Linked DNA regions of Homo sapiens: region 2 is linked to region 1. The links come from fine-mapping of genetic effects on gene expression. Tissue or cell type: whole blood. Region 1 holds a variant in brackets; the other region holds the start of a gene. All regions are shown on one strand. Distances are from middle to middle.

The links. PIP is the estimated chance that this variant, and not a neighbour inherited with it, causes the effect.
Region 2: it holds the start of AMOTL1, and the variant in region 1 is fine-mapped to the expression of AMOTL1 in whole blood (TOPMed, PIP 0.91).

The regions. Positions count from the first base shown.
Region 1 is chr11:94,635,843-94,643,946 of GRCh38, forward strand. The region is part of intron 4 of PIWIL4-AS1 (PIWIL4 antisense RNA 1); the gene reads right to left. LINC02700 (long intergenic non-protein coding RNA 2700) reads left to right here and starts at 2,201. Exons shown (of 6, transcript NR_187352.1): 1 at 2,201-2,511. RefSeq lists an enhancer at 4,173-4,672. The variant G/A (reference allele first, on the strand shown) is at 4,415.
Region 2 is chr11:94,763,254-94,771,357 of GRCh38, forward strand. AMOTL1 (angiomotin like 1) reads left to right here and starts at 5,103. Exons shown (of 13, transcript NM_130847.3): 1 at 5,103-5,307. The coding sequence starts at 5,259.

The DNA of each region.
Region 1 (8,104 bases):
AAAGACTGAGAAACTGTCACAGCCAAGATAGGCCTAAGGAGACATGGTAATTAAATATAATATATCTTGGATCCGATCTTGGAATAGAAAAAGAGCAATGAATAATAATTAAGGAAATCTGAATGAGGTATGGATTTTTGATAACAGTAACATATAAATATTAGTACATTAACTGTTACAAAGGCAGTGTACTAATATAAGACAATAATAGGGAAAACTGGGTGTAGGGTATATGTGAACACTTTGTCCTATCTTGGCAACTTTTCTTTAAATCTAAAATTATTGTAAGATAAAAAAGTATGTAAAAAACGGAATAGGTATAGTATTCTTCCAGTTTCGTGTGAGTGTGTGTGAGTGTACACAAAAAGACAAGCAGAATATTTATCAAAAATATCAATGATTAGGTCTACATGGTGGAAGTATGGGTAGCTTTCCTTTCTCTTTCATTCTTTTATTTTTCAAATTCCTGCCTTCTAATATAAGTCAAATGTGATATACTGATAGTTTTAGCTATCAGAAACATTATCAAGACCTTGGCACCGTTTCTATCAGCACATGGTAATTATGGGCCCCATTCTCCTAACACTCACTTCCTATATTTGCCCGGGATGCTTGCTAAAACTGAGTTCTATACTAAGAATTTCCAGGGAAGAAACTTGAGAATTTATTTTTTAACAAGTCCCTAGGTGATTTTTGTGTGTGTTTGTGTCTGGTGGCTGTTCAGATAAGTTTAGGAAACTGACTCAGCTAATTCTCACTTAAAGCTCAGCTCAGTGTCAGCTCTGCTGTCAAAACTTCTCTGTCCATCTCAGGCACTTAGAATCTCCCTTCCCTGTATCCTCCCTGTACCACACACACAACTCCATTCCTGCCCTTCTAACAGTGCAGCATAGTTTTTTCTACATTTTTCTCTCTGGCTGTTTTGCATATCTTTGTGATCTCATCGAACAATAGCATCTGGTAGGCCCTCAATATCCATTATTTAGATAAATGCATGGAAGCTTAGATAGTCAGATGGGCTGCTTTTAAATAAATGGGGTGATTCTAAGAATTTCATCAGCATCTATCTTCAAGCCCCTCAATAATGGCATCCCTGGTTGCTTTACAATAGGTGGGATCAGCCTCTTTTATTATCTCTTTAGAAGGAAGCATGGGAATATTCAATTTATTCCAAAATATATTGCTTTACGCTTGGATAATGGTCAGAAAAACTGGAAGTATGAATATATATTTGAATCATCTGGGAATCTATTGAAACCCAAACTTGCATTTGATGAGTAGTGCTTACCCTGGGCCAGGCCACTCAGTGCTTGAGCTGTGCTATCTAAGATGGAGGCTCTAATCACATGTGGCCTTTGAAGGCTACATTTAAAGTAATTGAAATCAATCCAGTTCCTCAGTCATACATTTCAAGTACTCAAAGGCCACACGTAGCAGCCACTGTATTGGAAAGTGAAGACATAGAACATTTCCATCATCACAGAAAGTTCTATAGGAGAGTGCTGACCTAGATGATTCCTCTTTATACTTCGAATCAGATAGTTCTCTTATTTAAGGCTTCCCTCATCCCTCCAAGCCATATTCTGTTTGGTTCGCAGTGACAGAAATGTCCTGGGCACCAGGGATTCAGAGATGAAGAAAATGTCATTGCTGCCCTGGAACAGCTTAAAGCAGGGACTCTCAACTGGGGCGATTTTGCTGCCTAGGGGACATTTGGCAGAGACTTTGTATTGCCATTAATAGTGTGGGGGGTATGTGTGTGTCTGTGTTCATGTGTGTGTTGTGTGTGTCTGTGTCATATGTGTGTATGTGTGTGTGTGTATTACTGGCAGACAGAGGGCAGCGATCCTGGGTAGAGGGCAGAGATGATGCTAAGCATTCTACAACGCACAAGACGGCTCCCCCTCCCTACCATCAAAAATTTGGCCCAAAATGTCAATAATGCCAAAGCTGAGAAACCCTGGCTTGAAGCCTTGTTGGGGAGAGAGACACAGGAGCACAAAGTACCAATGTCATGTGGAAAGTGAGCAGAGAGTGGTAGAGCACAGCCGTCGGACTGGGAGGATTCCCAAGCTGAGTCTGGAAGGAGCTGCATGCCTAGTCATTCCTTCTATGATCTAATAATGCTTTGCCCATTCCCCTCTGCAACACCTAACACTGTGATGTATTTTAACCATCAGTTTACACATACTTCTCTCCTGTGAGACTGTGAATTCTTCAAAAGCAGGTACTGTGTTTAATGAAGTGTGCCCAGGACTTTGCTCAGTGACTGGATGACACAGTAGGAGTAACAAGAAAGTTCACATGGGTGAACCGTGGTAGGTGGACATCGTCTCTCTCACCTCTTCCCAAATCAAGGATGAAGTACATCTTCATAAATCCTCATGTGAATTATTTTGCTACCTCTAGAAGCATTTTCTAAAACAAGGTGCAGCAATCAGTTGAGTGAATTTGTCACCAGAGCTTATGTTTTCTGAAAGAACCCTATCCTCAGGCAGTTGTTCCTAAGAGGTGAGTTGTGGATTTAGTTCACATACCTTCCTTCGTGGCTTAAAATGCTCCACATGCCTGTCTCCCCAACAGCATCAGATCACCATGCAGTAAAATACCAAGTCAGAACAGCCAATGCTGAAAAGAGTGACAGTTTCCTTTCATGATGCAATGCACTTGGAGCCAGGGGACAGGGAGACAATAACTGCAAGGAGAAGTGATGACAACCCTACTTTAATATAGTAGTTCCTTTTGAATTTTATAGACTTACCCGTTAATCTCTAGAATTTTGAAAAAATTCCTTAAGTGATGTGAGCAAATAACACTTTGCCTTGGGTTAGCCTTTTCCTTTCCCTTGAAGATTCCACAAATATGTCAGCGCTGGAAATGATCCTTTGGCTTTGAACTATGTGAAGACTGCAGAAGGACTGGTTGGTAAGCACCCACATCCTGGGGTGAGAATCACATCCAGTTTATACCTCCCTGTGCACACTTGTATAAAACAACTATAAGACACACGAGAGATCTGGAAGCCAGTTCCTCATAAGTAAGAATTGGTAAGAGCTCTTAAGCAGCATGTCTGAGGTTTAATAACTCGCCCTGTCTGGAGCCTTTTGTGTGTCTCACTTTCTTCTTAGCAAAACATGAGCATTACACTCTGTGCTGGAAGATTCCCTTCCTTCTTCCGGGCTTTTGATTACCCAATCCTTCTTTACTTTCACTTCTTGCTCAAAGCAGCTCTTTCTCAGCCATTTCTAAAAAAGGTTTATGAGATGCTGCAGGGCTGTGTCTCTAAATTGGGCCCTGTGTGCCTATATCCTCATTCTCTGCAGCTGCTGAATTCTTTCTGTGGGATCAGCCTTCTTCTAAGTGCTGGGGTGATGGGAACATAGCTGTAAACTGATTTTGACAGGAAGCATCACTTCCGGCTGGAAACAAGTCCCTGGTTTATGCAGCACATAGTACTAACTGTGGAACACTGTTAAACATGTCTCATTCCGCCCCCTCCACCAGCAAAAGGCCTTGCTGCTCAGTTGTGCACCAGATGATGTGGCATATGCACATACTGGCCACTAATGACAAAGCCTGACACCATGCAGTGGACATCTCTTGGGACCTCAGCCTCTTTCTCCTGGAACTGACCCCATCCTCCCTTCGCTACATGATCACCATGGGTGGATTCCCAGCAGCCATGCTTGTAACATGCATCCTGTCCTCTCTGGCCACAGACAACTACAATACAGATGAGCAGCCCACCCAAGATTCCTTCTCTAAGAATTTAGAACTGGGAATGGAGGAGAGAAAGAGAGAGATACTGATTCTACCAGAGACAATGGGATGAGATAGCATGGTTGTTGGAACCATGGCTGGAACTGTAAAGCACAAATTGGACAGCAGATAAAGTTGGTTCACAGAGAGAGAGAGAATGATGAAGCCATAGGGATCCAAGTTTCCCTATGGCTTTCCTCACCCTAACTCCTGTCCTTCCACAGGTCAGGCTGCATTTGTATCCTGGGTCCACAAGACATCGTTTCCTTAAAACCAATCCCCCTGATTTTGCTAAGGTGAGTCGGAACAAGTTGATTTCTGTTACACACACAAACACACACCCCACATGAGACAGCCAGGTAGGAAGTGCTCCCTGGCAGAGCCTCCCTGACCTGCACACTGGGAGGAATGCACGCTGGGGTGGAGCCTTGGGAGGTTCGCGTGGTTTGCAGTGGGGAGGAGCCTGCCGCCCTCTTCCTGGGTGGAACCTGGGATTCAGTTCGCCAGGCAGGAAGTGCAGTAGCAGGACTCTGGCTTTCCGGAGAGTCTCTGTTTTTCCTTTTTTTTTTTCCCTTTTCGCCCAATAAATACCATTTTTCTCACCCTTCAAAGTGTCTGCAAGCCTAATATTTCATGGATGTTTGACAAGGACCCC[G/A]TCTTTAGCTGAACTAAGGAGAAAGTCCTGCAACACACACATGGAGCTCAGCAAACGGAGGATGTAGTAGGTAGAATTTTTAAATGGCCTCTATGATTTCTTTGCCTGGTATCCACATCTTTGTGTCATCCTCTCCCCTTCAGTTGTGGGAGGGATGTATAACTTGCTTCTGAAAAGTAGAATATAGTAAAGGTGAAGAAATCCTGCAGTTGAGGTGAAGTTAATGAAAAGGGAGATAATCCTGGGTGGGCCTGACCTAATCAGGTGAGTTCCTGGAGAATGTCAAGTAAGAAGCCTAGAGTCAGAGACTCACTCTTTCCTGTTAGCCTTGAAGAGGCAAGATGCTTCAGTTCTACAGCTGCAAGGAAATCAATTCTGACAACAACCACGTGTGCTTGGAAGACCACCACCACCATCACCACCACCACCACCCCCCGCCCCGCCCCTGCCCCTCTGAGCCTCAGATGGGACGCTAGACCCTCCCTGATTATAGTCTGCGAGACACTGAACCTGGACTCCTGGTCTATGGGAGCTGTTTTAAGTTTTAAGCTGTTAATTTTTGGTAATTAGTTATGCAGCAAATGGCTGTGTTGTTATTCCCATCCCCCTCTTCCCACCTGTCTCCTTTAAATAAAAACCAGCATTTCAGGTCTGAACTGTCATGACTCCAATCTGCTTGTCAAGATGGACTCTAAGTAGAGTCAGGTGAAGAGGCCAGGTTAGCTATATTCCTTCTTATTTTCCATCCTTCAGTCATGGCCTGAGCCTTTTCCTTCCCTGAAATCTAATGAGAATCACTCCTCAGCTGATTATCATGGACTCGATGGCTTGTCATTAAGAATACCTCAGCCACAGGCAGCAGTGAGAAGAGAAGTGAAGGAGGAGGGGTGTTTAGGAAATGCCTGGTCCTGAGGGCGGAAGCAGTTTTGAAGTTGCACCTGCTCTGACAGAAAACTCGAGTGTAAGACTTACTGATGTCATTCTCCTCAGTTCTTCATGGACGTAGGACTGTCATGGGGAAATTAGGCAAAGATTCTGCTTTGGCAGGAAGAACTATGGCTCCCTGCCCACATCCCTTCGTTCAGCTCCCTCCCCCATTGGCCAGAATACACCAAGTTGTCAGCACCAGCCGGCCCGTGGCTATTCAGAATGTCTCTGGAAACCATGAAGGCTAGGAGGCATGAGATCTGGGTGCTGGGGCTGGTGAGTCCTCTAGTAACCAACCCAACTGTAAAGAAGTAATAATATATGGCATCTGCATAATGGTCTACGGCTTCCAACTTGCTTTAAGCTCTATTTATCCTTTGGGTCTCTCATCAGCCCTGGAAGAAAAGCAGTTGTCTTTGTCAGGCCTCTGAGCCCAAGCTGAGCCATCATGTCCCCTGTGACCTGCACGTACACATCCAGATGGTGGGTTCCTGCCTTAACTGATGACATTCCACCACAAAAAAAGTGAAAATGGCCTGTTCCTGCCTTAACTGATGACATTGTCTTGTGAAATTCCTTCTCCTGGCTCATCCTGGCTCAAAAGCTCCCCCACTGAGTACCTTGTGACCCCCACTCCTGCCCGCCAGAGAACAACCCCCTTTGACTGTAATTTTCCTTTACCTACCCAAATCTTATAAAACGGCCCCACCCCTATCTGCCTTTGCTGACTCTCTTTTCGGACTCAGCCCGCGTGCACCCAGGTGATTAAAAGCTTTATTGCTCACACAAAGCCTGTTTGGTGGTCTCTTTACACAGACGCACATGAAATTTGGTGCTGTGACTCGGATTGGGGGACCTCCCTTGGGAGATCAATCCCCTGTCCTCCTGTTCTTTGCTCCATGGGAAAGATCCACCTACGACCTCAGGTCCTCAGACCGACCAGCCCAAGGAACATCTCACCAATTTTAAATCGGGTAAGCGGCCTCTTCTTACTCTCTTCTCCAAGCTCTCTCACTGTCCCTCAACCACTTTCTCCTTTCCACTCTTCAATCTTTCCCTTCTCTTAATTTCAATTCCTTTCATTTTCTGGTAGAGACGAAGGAGACACGTTTTATCTGTGGACCCAAAACTCCGGTGTCGGTCACGGACTAGGGAAGGCAGCCTTCCCTTGGTGTTTAATCATTGCAGGGATGCCTGATTATTCACCCAAGTTTCAGAGGTGTCAGACCATGCAGGGACGCCTGTCTTGGTCCTTCACCCTTAGCAGCAAGTCCCGCTTTTCTGGGGAAGGGGCAATACCCCAACCCCTTCTCTCCATGTCTCTACCCCTTCTTCACCTTTCTGGGGGGCAAGAAACCCCCAACCCCTTCTCCTTCACCCTTAGCGGCAAGTCCCGCTTTTCTAGGGGAGAGGCAAATACCCCAACCCCTTATATCTCTGCGCCCCATCCCTTATTTCCCCACCCCAACCCCTTATATCTCTGTGCCCCGATCCCTTATTTCCATGCCCCAACCTCTTATATCTCTGCACCCCAATCCCTTATTTCCGCGCCCCAACCTCTTATATCTCTGCACCTTTGTGCCCCAACCCCTTCTCTGCTTTTCTGGAGGGCAAGAACTCCCCACCCCTTCTCCGTGTCTCTACTGTTTTCTCTGGGCTTGCCTCCTTTACTATGGGCAAGCTTCCACCTTCCATTCCTCCTTCTTCTCCCTTAGCCTGTGTTCTTAAGAACTTAAAACCTCTTCAACTCTCACCTGACCTAAAATCTAAGCATCTTATTTTCTTCTGCAATGCCGCTTGACCCCAATACAAACTCGACAGTAGTTCCAAATAGCCAGAAAATGGCACTTTCAATTTTTCCATCCTACAAGATCTAAATAATTCTTGTCATAAAATGGGCAAATGGTCTGAGGTGCCTGACATCCAGGCATTCTTTTACACGTCGGTCCCTCTCTAGTCTCTGTTCCCAATGCAACTCATCCCAAATCTTCCTTCTTTCCCTCCCACCTGTCCCCTCAGTCCCAACCCCAAGCGTCACTGAGTCTTTCTAATCTTCCTTTTCTACAGACCCATCTGACCTCTCCCCTCCTCCCCAGGCTGCTCCTCGCCAGGCCGAGCTAGATCCCAATTCTTCCTCAGCCTCCGCTCCTCCACCCTATAATCCTTTTATCACCTCCCCTCCTCACACCCGCTCTGGCTTAGTTGGTCTGGCTTAGTTTCATTCCGTGACTAGCCCTCCCCTACCTGCCCAGCAATTTGCTCTTAAAAAGGTGACTAGAGCTAAAGGCATAGTCAAGGTTTAATGCTCCTTTTTCTTTATCCCAAATCAGATAACATTTAGGCTCTTTTTCATCAAATATAAAAAACCCAGCCCAGTTCATGGCTCGTTCGGCAGCAACCCTGAGACGCTTTACAGCCCTACACCCTAAAAGGTCAAAAGGCCGTCCTATTCTCAATATACATTTTATTACCCAATCTGCTCCCGACATTAAATAAAACTCCAAAAATTAAATTCTGGCCCTCAAACCCCACACCAGGATTTAATTAACCTCGCCTTCAAGGTGTACAACAATAGAAAAAAGTTGCAATTCCTTGTCTCCACTGTGAGACAAACCCCAGCCACATCTCCAGCACACAAGAACTTCCAAACGCCTGAACCGCAGCGGCCAGGCGTTCCTCCAGAACCTCCTCCCCAGGAGCTCGCTACAAGTGCCAGAAATCTGACCACCAAGCCAAGGAATGCCTGCAGCCCAGGATTCCTCC
Region 2 (8,104 bases), 130 kb after region 1:
AAGGCTCATCCCCTTGCCCTTTCCTCTCCTTACGACAATGTACACTCAGTACTCTCTGCTTTAGACACTGCCAGTATTCCCTGAATTATGCTCCTGCCAACAGTTTGCAGGGCAGGGCATGTGTCAGAATCTTCAGAGGAGGCATGTGCTGTGTGAAAAAGCTTATTTGAGAATATTATTTTATATTTAGAAAAAGGCAGGAAAAAACACACTAGAGTTGACCCTTGAACAATGCAGGAGTCACGGGCGCTGACCCCCTCACACAGTTGAAAATCCAAATATAACTTCTGACTCCCCAAAAACTTAACTGCTAATAGCCTACTGTTGACTGGAAGCCTTACCGATAATATAAACAGTTGATTAACACATATTTCATATGTTATATGTATTAATACTGTATTCTTACAATAAATAATAAGCTATAGAAAAGAAAATGTTATTAAGAAAATCACAAGGCAGAGATGATCATCATAAAAGTCTTCATCCTTGTCATCTTCACATTGAGTAGGCTGAGGAGGAGGAAGAAGGGGGTGGGTTGGGCTTGCTGGTTCAGGGTGGCAGAGGTGGAGGAAGATCTGTGTGTAAGTTGACCTGCACTGTTCAAACCTGTGTTGTGCAAGGGTCTGCTGTATTGCCATTGTAAAACAGAGAACTGAAAGAAAAGGTTGGAAAAAAACTTCTCACCTGGTGATTATATAGGGGTTTATTAACTCTGGGGTTGATGTGACCATTTGATGTTTATAAAAAGAAGAAATTAAAAGAAAAGGTGTTTAGAAGCATGGCAGCGTATGCTTTCCTTCCTTGTGTCCATGCCTTTGCTCGAAATATCCTCCTCTCAGCACCTGGATTTCTTGGAACTTGCCCGTTTTTTTCCTGTGCATCATTCCTCTATGCTCCCATAATGCTTTGTGTCTAATCTCTAGTGTGTTCACCATCATTTTTTATCTTTAGCATACTACACTCTGATGTAGTAAATACTTCTGAAAGTGAATTGCAGGAGCACTGACTAACCCCAGTGAGCCAGCTGGAAACCTCAATGTGCTAGGAGTCATTTCGAGTGGATTCTAGGACTGCACCTTTAGAGATTCAGAAATTTGGAGGTGGAACATGAGGAGTTTAAATTTTTACATGCTTTGGTTTCATAAGTTACACTTCAGAAAGTGCTTGAAATTGAACTTAAAAAATATCCTTACTTGTTCTAGGAGCAAAACAAGCATTTTGATCAAAGCAGCCTGGGTGCATCAAATCATTGGTTTGTTCATTCAACAGTCATTAATGGAGAACTACCAGTTGTAGCGATGGTCCCAGGTGAGGCTGTGTGTAGTAGCTGTTCCTTACGTAGTCATGTTCATCCACTCTTCTTTTGCTGTTTGGCTTCTCTGTCTTTGCAAGCCCAAGCCCATTCTTAGGGCCCATTCAGTGAAAGTATTAGCTGGTAAAGACTTTAAATGTTTGTCAAGAAGGGGTGCTGAGAAAAGTGAGAGGAGAAAGACATTTGCATTTTAATAGAGTATTTAAATTCCTTGGTATTTCAAATTACTGGAGAAGAGGAGGGTTTCTAACTTTTACTGAATTCCTAGATGTGCCCAGCACTTGACCTGTATTATCTCATTTAACCCTTGCAATAAGTTTATGAGGCAAATGTTATTATTTTATAGAGGAGGAAGCTGAGGCTCTCCGTGTCTAGAAATAGATAGAACATGGACTAGAAGCAGGTCTTACTGTAAAGGCCCTGCTCATTCTCCTCTATCCAGATGCCTCTGTTACTTCAACATTCTTCCCGCCTCTATGCTTGTTGGGAACAGCTTGGTATCACTGGAACATCCTGGTACTCGTCCTGTTTTGAGTGAAAGACTGCTCTCTGGGCTGCCCCAAAGAGCACTAAAATTGGCCCATCATCTTCTTAGCTTTCTTAGGAATGAGTAAATGACAACTTGGGTCACTTTAGAAAGGATGCTGACCTTTAGGATGAGTGCATAGATCTAAAGAAGGCACAGATGTGGACTGGTTCACTACCTTGCTGTTAGTGAAGGTGTGTTCAATTTTTATTGTAAACATACTTTGTTTCCATTAGACACAAACCAGACATCAGAATCTCCAGCCAAGTGTGCTTACTGAAAGATGTTATTGATAACTTCTTGCTAGTGAAATTCAGAGTCTTTTTTTGCAGGCCTTAGTTCCTGAACAATAGATTCAGGAACTAAGTTAAGGCCTGAAAAGATTGTTTTCTGCATTTGATGTAGAGCTTATTCACAGATAAGGAAATTAAGGCACAGGAGGGAAACATTGGTCTCCAGCAGTGTTTTCTGCCTGTGCTTCCATGTATCTGATTACTGGGTATTAATTTGAGGAGTCTAGGCTAGGTCCACCTGATTGAATCAGAAGATCCTTGAACCCACAAGCTGTGCCTAGCACTTCATTGCAGGTCTAAGAATCTGTAGCATTTGATAGAAGGACCCACTTCTTAAAACTTCCTCTGGCTTCCATGCCTTTACCTTTTCCCAGCTCTTCTACTTCTCCAGATTCTTCCTCTTCTCCCTCCTTCTTTCCCTGTTTTCCAGTTGTGGACATTCTGTTAATGAACTGATCTTCAAAGCTTCATCTCTCCTTTTCTCTACACCTCTGTCCTCCACTTCTCACCCAGTCCCTTGTTCCTTGTTTCCTCTTGCCCAGAGGATAGTAAGTCACTCAGCATCTTTCTCAAACCGTTTCCTCTTCTCAACTGTGCTTCATCTGTCATTGGTCTAATGATCCATTCTTCTAAGACTGCAAGATCTATTCTTCCTATGACTGGGCTCAAAGCCTAGGTTAACTTGATTACTTTGTCCTTTTCCCCAGGATAAACAACGAGTCAATGAGAAGAATAAAATCTTGCTTCAAAGATTTGATACCTTTCTTTATGACATCTGGTATCTCCAAAGATATGGTATCTCTCATTTCCTTTTTATCACCTCTGTCAACCTCACCTATCATTGCTTCCTGCAACTATCCTAGATAGTCTCTTGAAATAATAATAGCAAATGTATATTGAATACTACATGCATTGTGCTGAGTATTTTACATTTGTTATTTTATTCAGTCTTCACAACCACTCTGTGAGATGCTATTTTCTTCATCTTGCCAAAAAGGATACTGAGGTTTAGAGAAGTTAGGCAACTTGCTCAGCGTCACACAGATACTGAATGGTGGAGCTGCAACTCAGCTCATGCCTGTTTTGTTCTAAACTTGATGGTTGTAACTTGGAAATTTTGCTGCTTCCTAGACTATAGGATGGTATCTAGGAGTGGGCAATTAGTAAAGATTAGTTTCCTTTCTTCTTTTTCTATCCATCACTTCTTCCCCAATTTGTATTAAATTCGCGCAAATGTTAGGTGAATCAGTGGTCCCTTCACTGTCCATAAGATAACCACTTCAGCTCCTAATTTGCGATTCAGGGTTCACAATGTGTAATACAAGGCACATTGAGGCAGAGGTTGTTTCTATACCTGGCTTTGCTACTAAACTTGTTCTGTAACATTGGACAAGTCATTCAACAGCTATGCCTGAGCTTCTTCATCCGGCAAGTGAAAGGTTTAGTTGACACTTTCTTAGATTCTTTCCAGGCCTACATTTTTGTGACGTTGTTATTCTGCCTTCCCTTGTTTTCTCCTCGTTTCTGGTAAAAACGCTTTCCTCTATGCCTTCTTCCCAAGCACCCAGACCTTGTCATCTCCCTCTTGGCTTTTGCCTCTGCTTGCCCAGTGCTGCCTTTTCCTCTTTCTGCTGTGTCTGAACTCCACCACCCTCCCAGGCTTTTCCTTCTGTGTAGTCAGTGCCTCTCTCCGCCCTTCCCAGGCATCTGCAGTACTTGGATCTCCTGCTTTGTTGCTTGCCTGTTTTCTGTTCACACATCTTGTCTTCTTAGACAGATAACAGATCCTTGAAGGGCTGGTCAGCTGCTCTAAGTTTCTTTTGTGTGCTAAGTTTCTTTTGTGTGTACCAGGGTAGATGACTTTAAATGGAGTAGGCATTTCATAAATAATTGTTAAATGATTACATTTGGGCTTTATCTTGAGAGCAGAGTTTACTCAGTAGGAGGGCCCATCAGGGGAATCAGAATCAGGACATGCAACCCACCAGAACTGATGAGAGGTAAAACTGCTGGCAGTCTAGTTAGGGAACTGCCACAATCCAGGGAGGAGTCCCTGAAGGCCGGACCTAGATAGCAGGTAAACAGAGGCAGGGAGCACCAGATAAGAGAGGCTTGGTGTGCGCTAACTCTCCCACTAACATCCTGGGCAGCAACTGTACAGTTACCTAGCTTTCTCTTCTCCAAGCAGTAGAGCTGCCCGGAAAAAGCCAGGCAGAAGTGCTATGGGGCAGGCTCGGGCACCCCAGATTAGGGCTCCAGAGAGCCGCCAGTATAAACCAATATAATGAGGTGGATGAGTAGTTCTCAGCACAGCCTGATTTTAAGAGGTGGGGCAACATTTTCCCAGAGTCGCTTACTTTCTTTACCTCTACTCAGGCAGATAACAGCCTGGGGATTTATGGCCAGAGGATGTACGGTTCTGCGAACACATTTAATATCCGAGGCTGTCAGGTCTGTTTTGGCCCTTCTGTTTGTCAACGGAGCACATAGTAGCAGCTTATCGCCCAATCTCAAGTGCGTGATGGAAGCACTGGGGCCTGGGGAATGCTGAGAAAAGTGTGGCCACTTTCTACCTGGAAATTCCACTTAAGAAGAAAAAAAACCAACCTAAGCAAATCTAGACTTTTGGGCAGATCCGGAAACAGAATTTTGGCCGGCATTGGGCTGGTGGGGAAGGAAGACAAAGTGGAGGGAGAACTGGTGAGTCTGAAATTAATCAAAACCCGGCAGGGGACAAAGGAAGGGATGCTGTCGCCCTCCTAAGTCTCAGGGAGACACGTCAGCTTGAGCTCTGGGCAATTTCAGCCTGGCAGTCTCGCGGCCCGGGGAGGGGCGGCGGGTGTCTGCAGACGGGCTCTAGGGCCCAGCGGCCGGGCGCCACGGCGGGGGTGGAGTGTAGGGTTCTAGTGACGAGCCCGGGCGACCCTCCCCGGCCCGCGCGCGGGGAGCGGGGAGCGCGGACGGCGGCGGGAGCGCGCGAGAAGCTCTAGGACCCAGCAGCGGTTGTCGGGTTTGGGGCTGGAGGTGAAGCCCTGTGTGAATGGGGTTGATTGTCCGGCGCCACTTCCCCGCGCTGCCCGGCAGCCGTCTTCCCCAGCCGAGGGACTGAACTAGCCATGATCGCCTCATGTGGAGGGCAAAGTTGCGCCGGGGAACTTGTGAGCCTGCGGTGAAAGGTAACCAGCCCCCACTCGAGGTGCCGGGAGGGCGTCTCCGAGTCTCCCACGCGAAGAACCCAGTCGCCCCGGGCTCCCCGGGCCCCTGCTGCTCACGGAAGGGGGCAGCTTCTGGGGGCCCGGGGCTGAGATCCCAGATTGTTGTTTTTAAGCGGGTTCCCTTGCCCCGCTCCAGGTCCAGTTGCCTGCGGGCCGGGCCTCAGCGTCTTGCCGCCCCGCGACCCACGTTGACTGAAGTTGTGGCCCCGGGGTTTGGGCCCCGGGGTGCTGCGCGCCCGACGCGGGGCTGGCCTTTCCTGAGGGGCGCAGCCATATGGCCAGACACTCCGAGGCGCGCCCGCGCCCGCGCGCGGGTCTCGCGGCGAGGGAGGGGACGGAAGGGGGTGTCCGGTGCAGCTTTCCCCGGCGCGAGACAAAGGCGCGCGCACCGGCCCGCCCGACGGGCTCTGGCGCTGTGGACTGGACCCTTTCTGCCCGCCGGCCAGACCCGGCTCTGGCGGGTGGGGGCGACGAAAGGGTCGCACCCCAGCCCCAGACGCTCGGATCGCGTTAGCTGCTGCTCCTTCTTTGTTCTCTCCCCAGACAAGTTTCTTTGACAAACTGGAGAGTTACATCCAGCTCCCGCTTGCCTGTTAGGGCTGCCTTTACAATAATCTGCTTTCGCGGGGAGAAAATTTAAACTTTCCAAATGGAACTGTTTTTTCTTGGAATGTGACATTTGTGGCAGGAGGGAGAGTGGTACGTTGGCCGATGACAGCCGAGCGGAACGGTGGCCTAGTGCCGGGACAGGGACCGAGCGTGCCCCATAGGCGGCCGGGCTGGAGGACGCGGCGGCAGAGCAGACGAGCCCTGGCGCGCACCTCTAGGGCCTCCGCTACCTGGACTGCGCTCGCGGCGACGTGTCCAAGTTTCCCCCCTCAGAGCCCCAGGCCGAGAATCCCGGGTATCTGCGCAAAGCTCCCGCGCCTCGCCCACCCTACTCTTCCTATCTTTACTGATGACTAGGAAGACTTTCCTTTTCCATTTTTGTTCGAAGATTTTTGCCTTTTTGGCTTCGGTGTTGGTTTCCTGTCTCCGCGTGGCAAATACCTTTTGGCCGGGCTAGCGTGTGGATCACCTGGACTGGGGTTTCAGAGGTGGGCCCTGAGCGTGCGGCCTCCTGAGACGATGCGGTTTGGACCCAACATTTTGTCCCCATGGTCCCTCAGCTCCCTTTCTCTGTGAGGCCTTGGTTTCCCATTTTCTTCTCCTGAGGCATGTTATGAGAACTGAGTTTTTGTACTGCTTATAGAAGGCCTTGGTGGTGGTGGGGTACGTGGTCTCGAGAGCCAGTTGTGATACCTCGAAGATGCTTTCGGCTAACCAAAGCAGTAACGTGCTAACCTGCTCACCATAAACGAATTAAACCAGAATAGAGGGCTATTAATAGCTACAGTTCCAGAAAATTTCCTTCCTTTTCGGGAAGCAAAAAGTCAAGGCTTGAAATATTAAACAATCATGGCTCCCTGCTTCCAAAACTGGCCTATGGGTCACTGCCAAACTGGCTAAGATTTCCCCTGGCTGCATACCACTCCTGGGCCCGGGCAGCTGTGGAAGTCAGACCCAGGTTAACGATTAAGGAGCTCTCTAGATTGCAAGGTCTTAAAGAATCTAGAGCAACTGACATTTACTTCCTAGTAAGGTGCTCTGAGCCTTATAGTGTGTATCTACTTTGAAGGCTCTTTATGAGAATAATGTGGGAACAGTAGTTTAATATACTTTGAACTGTTAGTAAAGGGTGGAAAAGCACTGATTTGACTAGAATGAAGGAAAACACCGATTCGACCAGAATGAAAAGGGTAGGACATAGGTAGAAGGCTTTATACAGGCTCTACTTTTCCTTATGATGGTGGTGGGGGTTGGGGGGAGGGATGAGGATGTTTAGTTCTTGGAGTGCACTTTTGTTTTTCTGTGATGCATTTTTCAAGATAAATAAGGAAACCTTTGTAAACCTGCAGGTGGATAGGAGAGAAGGTGCTGTACCTGTAACGCCCCTTTCCCTCCCCCTTCTTTTTAAAATGCACAGAAGTCTTGGTCTTTCAGGTTCTTTGCAGATGATGGAGGATGTAGCATACTAATTTTCCAAAGGGCATGTGGAGATCAAAGCATTTAAAAATACATCTTTTCACGGAGGCTAATGGAGGATTTTCAGTTTAAATGAGATTTTAAAGTGCTGTCGTTAAGAAAAACACATGAATGCAGAAATGTGAGTGATTTTATGGGAAAGCACTCCGCTGATCAGACTTGAGAGTGTCTGCCCTGGGCCAGTTAGTCTAGAGGCTGTTGTGGGTAGAGCTCAGCTTTTCTGATGTCTACCCCTAAGGAAAAGTGTGGACCCAGGGCCTAGGGAAAAGATGGCTGAACTAATTGAAATGAGCAGTCTGGCTGGTGAGAGTTCTGTTGAAAGGTATAGCCTCTAGGTATCAGTGCTGCATTTCTTCATAGTAATTTGTGAAAATGCTTTGAAAATGATAAAACAAAGACTTTTGAAAAAAATAATTAATGACATGAAATGGGAATTGCTAGTGAAAATTGTAAAAGTTTGATTTTTCAGGCCAATAAATTAAAAAGAAGTAACTTTATAGGACCTGCTAATATTTCTGATATATAAAATTCCCCCAAAGTAACCTTTTCTATTTTCTTTTCTTTTTGGCGGGGTTGGGGGGGGGGTGCGGTGTGTGGCTATCTGCATTTTAAATGCATAAGGAAGCTCAGGTCAGAAAATTCTGCAGTGTTTTGAATAATTTTTCTCCTATTT